2 separate regions of the Homo sapiens genome follow, and region 1 is linked to region 2. A link means that fine-mapping ties the variant in region 2 to the expression of a gene that starts in the linked region. Tissue or cell type: whole blood. Region 2 holds a variant in brackets; the other region holds the start of a gene. All regions are shown on one strand. Distances are from middle to middle.

Region 1 (5,380 bases), 49 kb before region 2:
ACACACACACACACACACACACACACACACACAGAGTAGTACACTCTTATCCATGGGGGATACATTCCAAGACCCCCCCCATGGATGCGTGAAACTTCAGATAGTACCAAACTCCATATACATTATGTTTTTTCCTGTACATACATACCTATAATAAAGTTTAATTTATAAATCAAGCACAGTAAGAGATTAACAACAATAGTAGAATAATTTTAACAATGTACGATAATAAAAATGATGTGACTGTGGTCTCTCTCTGTGTCTCTAAAAGTATCGTATTGTACTCACTGATTTTCAGACCATTGTTGACCTTAGGTAACTGAAACTGTGGAAGGTAAAACCTCAGATAAGGGAGGACTACTGTATATAGTATTCTTACCACACTGTATATTTCTCTACTAGGCTGTGAGTTCCTTGGTGACAAAAACCAGTGACACTTACATGCACTGGACCTTCCATAGGATCTAGCATAGACCAAGTGACAGTGGCAGCATCTTCAAGAGGTGGCATGGAGTGAGGGAAAAGATAGCATTTAGCTTGTCTTCTCCTCCCTCATAATCTCTATTAACCACCCGCCTGCACCCCAAATGAACATACATCCTACATGAAACCAGGGTATTAGTCCGTTCTCACACTGCTAATAAAGACATAGTGAGATGGGTAATTTATACAGGAAAGAGGTTTAATTGACTCACAGTTCAGCATGGCTGGGGAGGCCTCAGGAAACTTACAATCAGAGCAGAAGGGGAAGCAAACACATTCTTCTTCACATGGCATCAGGAAGGGGAAGTGCTGAGCAAAAGGGAGAAAAGCCCCTTATAAAACCATCAGATCTCATGAGAAATCACTCACTGTGGGAACTACAATTCAAGACGAGATTTGGGTGGGGACACAGCCAAATGATATCAACCAGTATGCATGCTAGGCCAATGTGGGATTAAGCAAAGCCCCAGCACCTCCTTCCTAGCAGAGTGCTTAAAGGTCCCCTCCTGTATATTACTCAAATTCAATAAATGTCTGTTAAAACACTTTTGGGGGAGTGGCAATGGGACGAAAAAGAAAGAACTTGAATGACCATCATTTTTTAAAATGAGGTCCATTGAGGTATAATTTACATGCAGCAAAAGTTTCCCTTTTCCTATATAAAATTTGATGAGTTCTGACAAATGCATAGTTATGTAACCACCACCATCATCATGATAGAGAACACTTCCATCGTCTCAAAATAATTCCCTTTGAACTACCATAATTTTAAATGAACTCTTTAGAAGAACCACAAAAACTTATCAATGTTGTAGATTACATAACATATACTTGCATCTTGGACAACTTAACATATCTCTCCAAAATGAATAGTTGTTTTCCCTTGGTTATCATGCCATCATTTAGTTGTATTGCATTTTCTTTTTGGAAACCTCAAGGCATTTAGCAAACAGGATTTCATGTTTATTCCCAAAAACTCTGGCCCAACTGTAGAGATTTATAGTCCAATTCAATGAAACCCATGCATTTCTTTCCCAGTTTAACCTGATGTTTCTCTTCTTACCAGAGACTTCCATGTAAATACTTTAACAATGTTAGGTGTGTTATATATAATGAGGTCATAATCAGTTTCAAATTAGCATTGCGCCTTTCACTTATTTATCAATTATATTCCCTTGTGATGATTATGAAAAGGCTCCACATCCTGAGGACACTTGTCAGAGTTAGATTTATTAATGGAATGAAATAGCAAATAATGAATGACTAAATAAATGAATGAGTGAATGAATGAATGAGTGGCTGCCTCCATTTTATGGATGAGGCAGTGTCCGAAAGGCACAGTGAGGTCAGGTGATGGCAGAAAGCCACACACCGATGTTGGTGGCTTTCTGCCAGGTCAGATGCCAAGTTTATTTTCTTTGCTTTCTTGCTTTACTATCAACTAATCTTTAAAATCATTCCCATAAAATATCAACATTAAAGAATAAAAATGGAAAAATAAGCCACATACAATTAAATGGCTTTTTTAAAAGGAGCTCAGTGTGCAAAGGATAACATGAGTAAGGATTTTTTGGGAAATTTTTCACCTAATAGGAAGAATGCTTTACTCTTTTATTTATCAAACCTTCCTCATCATTAAATGGATTCAGTAGTACTTTTTGGTAATAACTCGTGTGTGTGTGTATGTGTGTAATAAAGTACTTTGTATATGTTCATTGTGTTCTTTTTTTAATAAGCTGTTTTAATGAAAAAGACACAATTACCGTCACCATTGCCCACTATATAATGACAAGTAGGGGAGGGGAGGCTAAAAGAGCTTCTACATAGTGAGAGATCTTCCATTGTTATACCTACGCTTGCACTTTATTTCATTTTCTTCCACGTTTGGACAGGTCGAGATTAAATGTGATTACATTTCCGTTGAGAGGCTTTTATTCAGCAACAGGATTCAAAAGAATGTCAATGAGCATAAAATAAAAACGGTGTGCAATTTATATGAAACTCTGATTTAAATGGTCCTAACCAAAAAAAAAAAAAAAGAAAGAAAGAAAAGAAGCTATTTAAAGTAACCCTCCCAAGGGGAGTCAACTGCTCTTCAGTGTGCCCTGAGCCGGCTGTGCCTTCTCTCCATCCGCTGCTCAGATATTCATGAACCGTTGCTTCTTCCAGCCTCGCCTTCTCGCTCCCTCTGCCTTTCTGGCGCTGTTCTCCCTCCCTCCCTCTGGCTTCTGCTCTTTCTTACTCCTTCTCTCAGCTGCTTAACTACAGCTCCCACTGGAACTTGCACAATCAAAAACAACTCTCCTCTCTCAAGCCGCCTCCAGGAGCGCATCACCTGGAGAAGAGCGACTCGCTCCCCGCGCCGGCCGCGGAAGAGCAGCCAGGTAGCTGGGGGCGGGGAGGCGTACCCTTCTCCCGCTCGGTAAGAGCCACAGCATCTCCCCGGAGATTGGCCGTATCCCACCGTCCGGCCCCCAGGGTCCTGCAGCGGTGATGCATATGTTTCGGAGCAATGATGGAAGGAGAAAAGCCGCTGTCGGTGGCAACTGAAAGTGGGGAGAGGTTGCTGCAGTAGCTGGTGCTGCAGAATGCGCGAGTGAAGAACTGAGCCCCGCTAGATTCTCCATCCCGCTCAGTCTTCATTAACTGTCTGCAGGAGGTAAACCGGGGAAACAGATATGCACTAACCAGGCGGGTGCCAACCTGGATCTATAACTGTGAATTCCCCACGGTGGAAAATGGTAAACAAAGACATGAATGGATTCCCAGTCAAGAAATGCTCAGCCTTCCAATTTTTTAAGAAGCGGGTAAGGACAGGTTTTGCTTATTTCTTTTGTTTTCTGTGCTTCTCTTAAATGCTTTTGAATGTTTGCCTGAAGTAAGCCTGAGGTTTTGTTGCTAAACCCTTAATGTAAGCCGTGCTTCTGATGGCAGTGGTAAAGCTGAGAACTATACCTGACTTGATTAGAATTTGTTGGAGGAGGGGCAGGGGGCTATGAAGAGTTGCATTGGGAGGAGGGGGTTGGGCTGAGATGCCTTAAACGGGTTTGAGCTGGGAATGGGGATTTTTCTCTCTCAAGCCACAACAAAGATTACAAGGCAGTCGCAAAGAGAACTGGCTTGAGTACAATTATGGCTAGTAATTTAGTCAGGGGCTAATTTAGCAGCTTCCTCTCATCTTTGAAGGGTTCAACTTTTCTACACCTTTCATCCACTCAGTCTCAAGTGATGCATTATCATCTTCGTTCGTCAGAAGCAGCAGCTTCTGGTTTCCCAAATCCATTCAGCCAATAATTTGCTGTGTCTCTATCTGTGGTATAAATAGCAAAGGAGTAGAATGACCTTTTACAGAAATGATGGAATCCAGCATTTAAAATTGTCTATTTTAAGTTGCCTCAATTTTTGCTTTTGCTTAGAATAACTGCCTTTTTTTTTTTTTTTTTTTTTTTTTTTTTGGGAGAGAGCAGTGGGAGGTCTGTATTTGAGTGATAATTCAGGGTTATGTTGCTGTATGCATTTATTTCTTAAACTCCTTATTCTTCAACTCAAAGTATGAATAATGTTGCATTGGTTGTAGGTGAGAAAAAAGGATTTTTTTGCATGTATATTTCACAATAAACTCAGTTCACTGGGATGGCCACACTGGTGGTCTGTGTAAATCTGCAAATTTATACACAAGCGGGAGGTAAGAAATGAATGATTGTTAAAGGAATGACACTGACACTCTTAAGGACAGTGTTTCCTAAGCAACGTAAGAGAAGGAACATCCTCCAGTCCCCAGTTGCCCCATCCTATTTAATACCCTAGGGCAATTCCACCAAAATGGTTCTCTCCATTCATTCCTCCTTCCTTTCATTCAGGTCCTTTCTGTGCCACTCCTGAAACACAGCCCTTCAGTTAACTCATCCGCAGAACACAGTGAATTTCAGGGTGGGCTGGACTATCTCCCTGCACCAAATGGGCAAGCTGGGAAGGCAAGGCTAGAAATGCAGGCAACATGTCAGGCCCAGCTAGAGGGCCAGCGAAGGCTCCCAAGCACCCTTGACTGAGTTCTCATCAGTAAAGCAAAATCTTTCTCCAAGTCTGTGGGCCAAAGCATATGCATTCAAACCAAAATGAAACCAACCTGTCCTGGCCCCTGCTCTTGGAGTGGGAGTACCATGTGAAATCTCACTAGTGAGCTGCAAGCTAAGTGAAAGCAAGTCAGTGCAACTTCACAGAGCTCCACAAGGCTTCTTAGTTTTTCTCTGTAGCTAAAATATTTCTTTCCAAGGGAAGAGCCCTTTATGAAAATTAATTTTCTTTCTTTCTTTTTCTTTTTTTTAGAGACGGGGTCTTGCTATATTGCCCAGGGTGGTCTTGACCTTTTGGGCTCAAGTGGTCCTCCTGCCTCAGCCTCCCAAATTGCTGGGATTACAGATGTCCACCACCAGGCCCAGCCCTAATTTTCAATAATAAACAAATGTTTTGCTAATTTTAAAAATGCCATAGCCCATTATCCAGTATTTAAACTCTATTGCCTTTTAATTACTGTATTTATTTCATGGTATTGGGGATATTCTAAAACTCCTCAGTCAGATGTTCTTAAGCAATGTAGATTTAAGTTACATAAATTTTAAATTGTCTTTTATTTTCTTTGTTATCAAAATGTACTAATAGAAATACTAATTTGCCATTTGGTTTTGTTTTGCTTAAAAGCAAGTTTACCAATAGACTTCAGTTGGTGACTCTGCAGACCTTGAATTTTGCAGAGAACCACCCAGGGTACTGATGTCTTATCTGAGTACATGCAGAAAGAAGTTTCTACCAAGATAACTGGCAGGCAGCTTCATCTAACTTCTAACCTGGGTCTATCAGTTGCTGGAGACAGGATCAGACATCTCTCCTGCCCCTGCGC
Region 2 (5,380 bases):
TAGGTTCAAGTGATTCTCCTGCCTCAGTCTCCCAAGTAGCTGGAATTACAGGCATGTGCCCCCGCGCCCGACTAATTTTTGTATTTTTAGTAGAGATGGAGTTTCACTATATGTTGGCCAGACTGGTCTCAAACTCCTGACCTTAGGTGATCTGCCTGCCTCGGCCTCCCAAAGCACTGGGACGACAGGCATGAGCCACCGCACCTGGCAGAGTCCCACAATTTAAAGAAATGAGAAAAACTTCACCTGTATTTCCAAAGAAAAACGTACGTTGATGAATTCCTGCACTTTATCTATTTAACACTTGGCAGTGTAGGGTGGGGTGGGGTGGGACAGGGTGGGGTGGATTCCTCAATGGGGAGGATGAGGAGGGAGACTTTATACTTACTGAGCTAGAAGAACAGGCAAGCACTGTCCTCTGAAGAGACGGAGCTGGGGTGCTGCCTGCTGTGAGCAGCAACATTAAATAGGGTACATGGACGCATTGCGTCTCCGTTTTCCCACTTCCCCAGAGTCCTCCCCACCACTCCATCCTCCGGACTAGGCCTGGAGACACAGGTTGGCCCCTGAGAATCTAGAAGAGGATGCAACTAGGTCAAGGTGAGAGGAAAGGACTGGGAGATCCCAAGGACAACAGCATAGAAGGTCAGGGAATTCTAAAAGTCACTCCATCTTCTCAGGGTGCCTGCTCCAGGATAGGTCTTGCGTGTTAAAGAGAAATATTTAAATAGAAAATCTGTATTACCTTGATGGAGGATGTTAGCAAAACTTGTTGAGATCTATAAGTAAATATTAAAAGCAATCAAGAGATTCCTATTTTTATTACCTAGTTTGTTTGTAAGCCCATACACTAGCCTCTGGAATTTTTTTTTTTCCTAAGGCCTAAGAAGCTATTCTCATGCTTATGATCCAGTTGGAAAGGTGACATAGGCTTAATATCAAGACCAGTTAGCATAAAAGTCCTGTTGTTTTATACAAGCAATAAACACTACAAACACTAGAGAAAAGACAGTAATAGGCCTGGTGCGGTGGCTCACGCCTGTAATCCCAACAGGCTTGGGATTGGGAGGCCAAGGTGGATGGATCACCTGAGGTCAGGAGTTCGAGATCAGCCTGACGAACATGGAGAAACCCTGTCTCTACTAAAAATACAAAACTAGCTGGATGTGGTGACACACGTCTGTAATCCCAGCTACTCGGGAGGCTGAAGCAGGAGAATTGCTTGAACCCGGGAGGCGGAGGTTGCAGTGAGCTGAGATCGCGCCATTGCGCTCCAGCCTGGTCAACAAAAGTACAACTCCGTCTCAAAAAAAAAAAAGAGAGAGAGAAAAGACAGATACATGATGATGACATATAGCTGGGGTGAAGATATCTGATTAATATTACTGAATATTACAGCACTGTTATATTTTAGGAGACATGCTATGAAGCAGCTTCAGGCTCCAGTATCAGTGTGAGATGAATTTGCTTCCAGGAGCCTTCTCCTAAATTACACTCATGCCGTAACTAACCTGCTAGCATGCACCCTCTGGGAGAGGCATAGGCATGCAGGTCTCTTACTTTCTCTCTCTCTTTTTTTTTTTTTTTGAGACAGAGTCTCACTCTTTCATCCAGGCTGGAGTGCAGTGGCACGATCTTGGCTCACTGCCACCTCCGGCTCCTGGGTTCAAGGGATTCTCCTGCCTCAGCCTCCCTAGTAGCTGGGATTACAGGTGGACGCCACCATGGTGGCTAATTTTTGTGTTTTCAGTAGAAACGGGGTTTCACCATGTTGGCCAGCCTGGTCTTTAACACCTGGCCTCAAATGATCCACCTGCCTCGGCCTCCACCTCACCTGGCCTCCCTTTTTATAATCTATTGACCTATCCAAGTAATTTCACTAGAAAACTGGGCTGACTCTCTCGAAATTGAAAGTTATTGAGGCGTCAAGTAAGCAAAGTCAGTTCTCTATAATTAAAAAAAAAAAATGCCTGTTTGGAAATTACAGAAGGCAACTTCAAGCTCTCTTGGCTTTTTAAGAGAGTCAGCTCTTCCCCCTAAAAGGACGGGGGCCAATGAGAGTAGGTGTTGCCACCTGAGTTCACACCTAAGTACCTAAACTCTCTATAATTTTCCTGTATCGGTTGATATCATTATCAGCTAAACTATTTTAAATTAATAGTAATATCTGTTTGCTCTTAGATAATAGGAAAAAACCACAAGTGGAAAATCCCTAGAAGCCAGCCAATCTCTTTAATCACATCTGGCAATTTTCTAGACTGAGGGATTGCTTTTGGATGGCTTTTTTTTTTTTTTTTTCCAAGTAAAGACATTAATAAAACCAAGGTGGACTGGATTTAGCAAAGAATTTGGTTGAATATTTTGTTTACCCACTGTTCACTCAGTTTCTGTCTAGTTAAATGAAGGGCCTTACTGGTTCACCCCGGTATCTGTAGAGGTAGTTGCTTCTAAAAGTCTGGTGTGGTTTGGAGAACAGTCTCCTATAAACCCCAAGTGAGGGAATTTTTTTTTTTTTTTTTTTTGAGACAGAGTCTCGCTCTGTCGCCCAGGCTGGAGTGCAGTGGCGCGATCTCAGCTCACTGCAAGCTCCGCCTCCCGGGTTCACGCCATTCTCCTGCCTCAGCCTCCCGAGTAGCTGGGACTACAGGCACCCTCCACTACGCCCGGCAATTTTTTTTGTATTTTTAGTAGAGACGGGGTTTCACCGTGTTAGCCAGGATGGTCTCGATCTACTGACCTCGTGATCCGCCCGCCTCCTCCCAAAGTACTGGGATTACAGGCATGAGCCACAGCGCCCGGCCTGGGAATTCTTGATTTATTCAGGATAAAGAGGATGTCTCACCCCGTCTATGTTTGTTTACAATGCGCTTCACAAACAGTTGTGTAGCTCTGAATAAAACTAGGGCCCAGGTGGCCCAGGAGGCCCAGGAGCCCAGGCTGCCGCTGGCATCCGGGCATTCGTGTTTCTCGCACACACAGCTGCTGCAGCTCTCCTCCAGCCATTGTTATGAAGGGCTCCCAAAGCCACTCACAGTCAGCTACTCCCTCCAG[T/C]AAAGCAATCCGCAGCCTGAGGAAACACAATGGGCCAGTTGTAGCTTGAATTCCCCGAGGGGCCGTGGGAGGATTTCTCTACTCAGCAGTTTTGAAGGGCACCTTGCCTAACTCCTGTGCATTCACTGGGTCGGTCCAGCCACTCTCTCAAGAGCAAGCAAACATCGTAAACTCTGTCCTTAATTGGGCCTGTAAAAATCACTTGTGAGGCTTCAAAGCTGGTGAAAAGTGTCAAGGAGTCATAAAGAAGGGACACGTTGAAGCCAGTATAAGGACTAAGCCAATGGAGACAAAACCTTTTTAAGACAAAGCATGCAGTAAAATTCAGCAACAGTCCGGTTAGAAATGTGTTGCTGGATTCATTTTTGTAAGTAACACTTTTTCTCTGATGCTTCTGGAGAAAGGGAGTATTTCTCCATATCCCTTGCTACATTCTGTGTGGACAGAGAGGGAGTATCCGATAGTATCCTGGCTCATACTGTTTAAAATTGAGCCCTCCACCCGCAATGATCCTGATCATTCATATGCTTTATTTTCCTTCTTACTTATAGTTTACTTATTTTATTAAATAAATAGTATGTCCCTTTAATAATTTTATTCTGGCCAGGTGTAATGGCTCATGTCTGTAATCCCAGAGCTTTGGGATGCCAAGGCAGGAGGATCACTTGAGACCAGGAGTTCAAGACCAGCCTGGGCAACATAATGAGACACCGTCTCTCCAAAAAATAAATAGCCGAACGTGGTGGCGCGCATCTGTAGTCCCAGGTAACTGGGAGGCTGAGGCGAGAGGATAGCTTGAGCCTAGGAGCTCTTGGTTGAAGTGAGCTATGATCGTGCCACAGCCCTCCAACAAAGGGAATAGAGTGAGACTGTATCTCTGTAAAAAAAACCAACCAAACAAACAGAAAAGTCACTATGAACATATTCAGACTGTAACATATTAAAAAAAAGAAAAAGAAAATATAAAAATAAAAAACAAAAAGAAATAAAAATAACATGAAAAAAGAATATTTAAAAAAAATTTTATTTTGTTGGCCATAACTCAAGCTCTAGAGTGCGGGTGTTCAGGGAGTCAGGGGAGATATACATTTCAAGATACAAAGATTCTTAGTCCAGGCATACAACTTACAAATATATTTGAATAGATTTATCATCTGTTTAAATCCTGTTCACAGTAACCCTAAAGTTAAATCTACTTGGCAAAAGAGACATTGAAAGTAAGCCAGAGTAAAAAGATTGATTTTAAACTACAACGTTGGAGACAAAGCAAGAACAGTTACCAGACTTCAAGCCCAAAACTATCTGAATAAGAATAATAAAAAACATTATCCATCTCTAATGAAATTGAACACTTTTTAGACTGATCAAAAACACATTTAGTACTAACATTAAGAAGATACATTCTATTGGAGTCTCAAACTTTTAAAGTTTCATTTAGACTTCCATTAATGAATCAGCGAAACATTCTTAATATACCTACTAACATGCTTAAGGGGCCCTATAGTGACAGAAATATTTAAGGAAACCCAAAATTTTAACTTTAGGATAGTAAACTCAAAAAGATATTTTATTTTTTTTGAGACAGAGTCTCCTTCTTTCACCCAGGCTGGAATGCAGTGCCATGATCTCAGGCTCACTGCAACCTCTGCCTCCGAGGTTCAAGCCGTTCTTCTGCTTCAGCCTCTGGAGCAGCTGGGGTTACGGGTGTGCACCACCACGCCCAGCTAATTTTTGTATTTTTAGGAGAGTCAGGGTTTCACCATGTTGGTCAGGCTGGTCTTGAACTCCTGAGATCAGGTGATCCACACGCCTCAGCCTCCCAAACCCAAAGTGCTGGGATTACAGGTGTGAGCCACCACAACCGGCCTCACAAAGATATTTTAAATGGCTATTGAAAAGAGTACATATAGGCCAGGTGCAGTTGCTCACGCCTGTATTACCAGCCCTTTGGGAGGCTGAGGTGGGTGGATCACCCGAGATCAGGAGTTCAAGACCGGCCTGGCCAACATAGCAAAACCCCGTCTCTACTAAAAATACAAAAATTAGCTGGGCGTGGGGGCACGGTGCCTGTAATTCCAGCCACTCAGGAGGCTGAGGGAGGAGAATCACTTGAACCAGGGAGGAGGAGGCTGCAGTGAGCTGAGATCGCGCCACTGCACTCCAGCCTGGGTGACAATCAGAGACTCCATCTTAATAAATATAAATAAATGAATAAAGAAATAAATAAATAAAGCAATTAAAAGACACTTGTGGCTGGATGTGGTAGCTCACGCCTGTAATCCCAGCATTTTGGGAGGCTGAGCTGGGAGGGGAACACTTGAGCCCAGGA

What was found.
Region 1: SGK1 starts here. The variant in region 2 is fine-mapped to the expression of SGK1 in whole blood (TOPMed, PIP above 0.99).

What each region holds. Positions count from the first base shown.
Region 1 is chr6:134,315,302-134,320,681 of GRCh38, reverse strand. It overlaps SGK1 (serum/glucocorticoid regulated kinase 1), which reads left to right and starts at 2,570. Exons shown (of 14, transcript NM_001143676.3): 1 at 2,570-3,290. The coding sequence starts at 3,222. RefSeq lists an enhancer at 2,743-3,022.
Region 2 is chr6:134,265,865-134,271,244 of GRCh38, reverse strand. All of the region lies in intron 1 of SGK1 (serum/glucocorticoid regulated kinase 1), which reads left to right. Among named protein-coding and RNA genes, the nearest start is that of SGK1, 50 kb to the left of the region's middle. The variant T/C (reference allele first, on the strand shown) is at 3,052.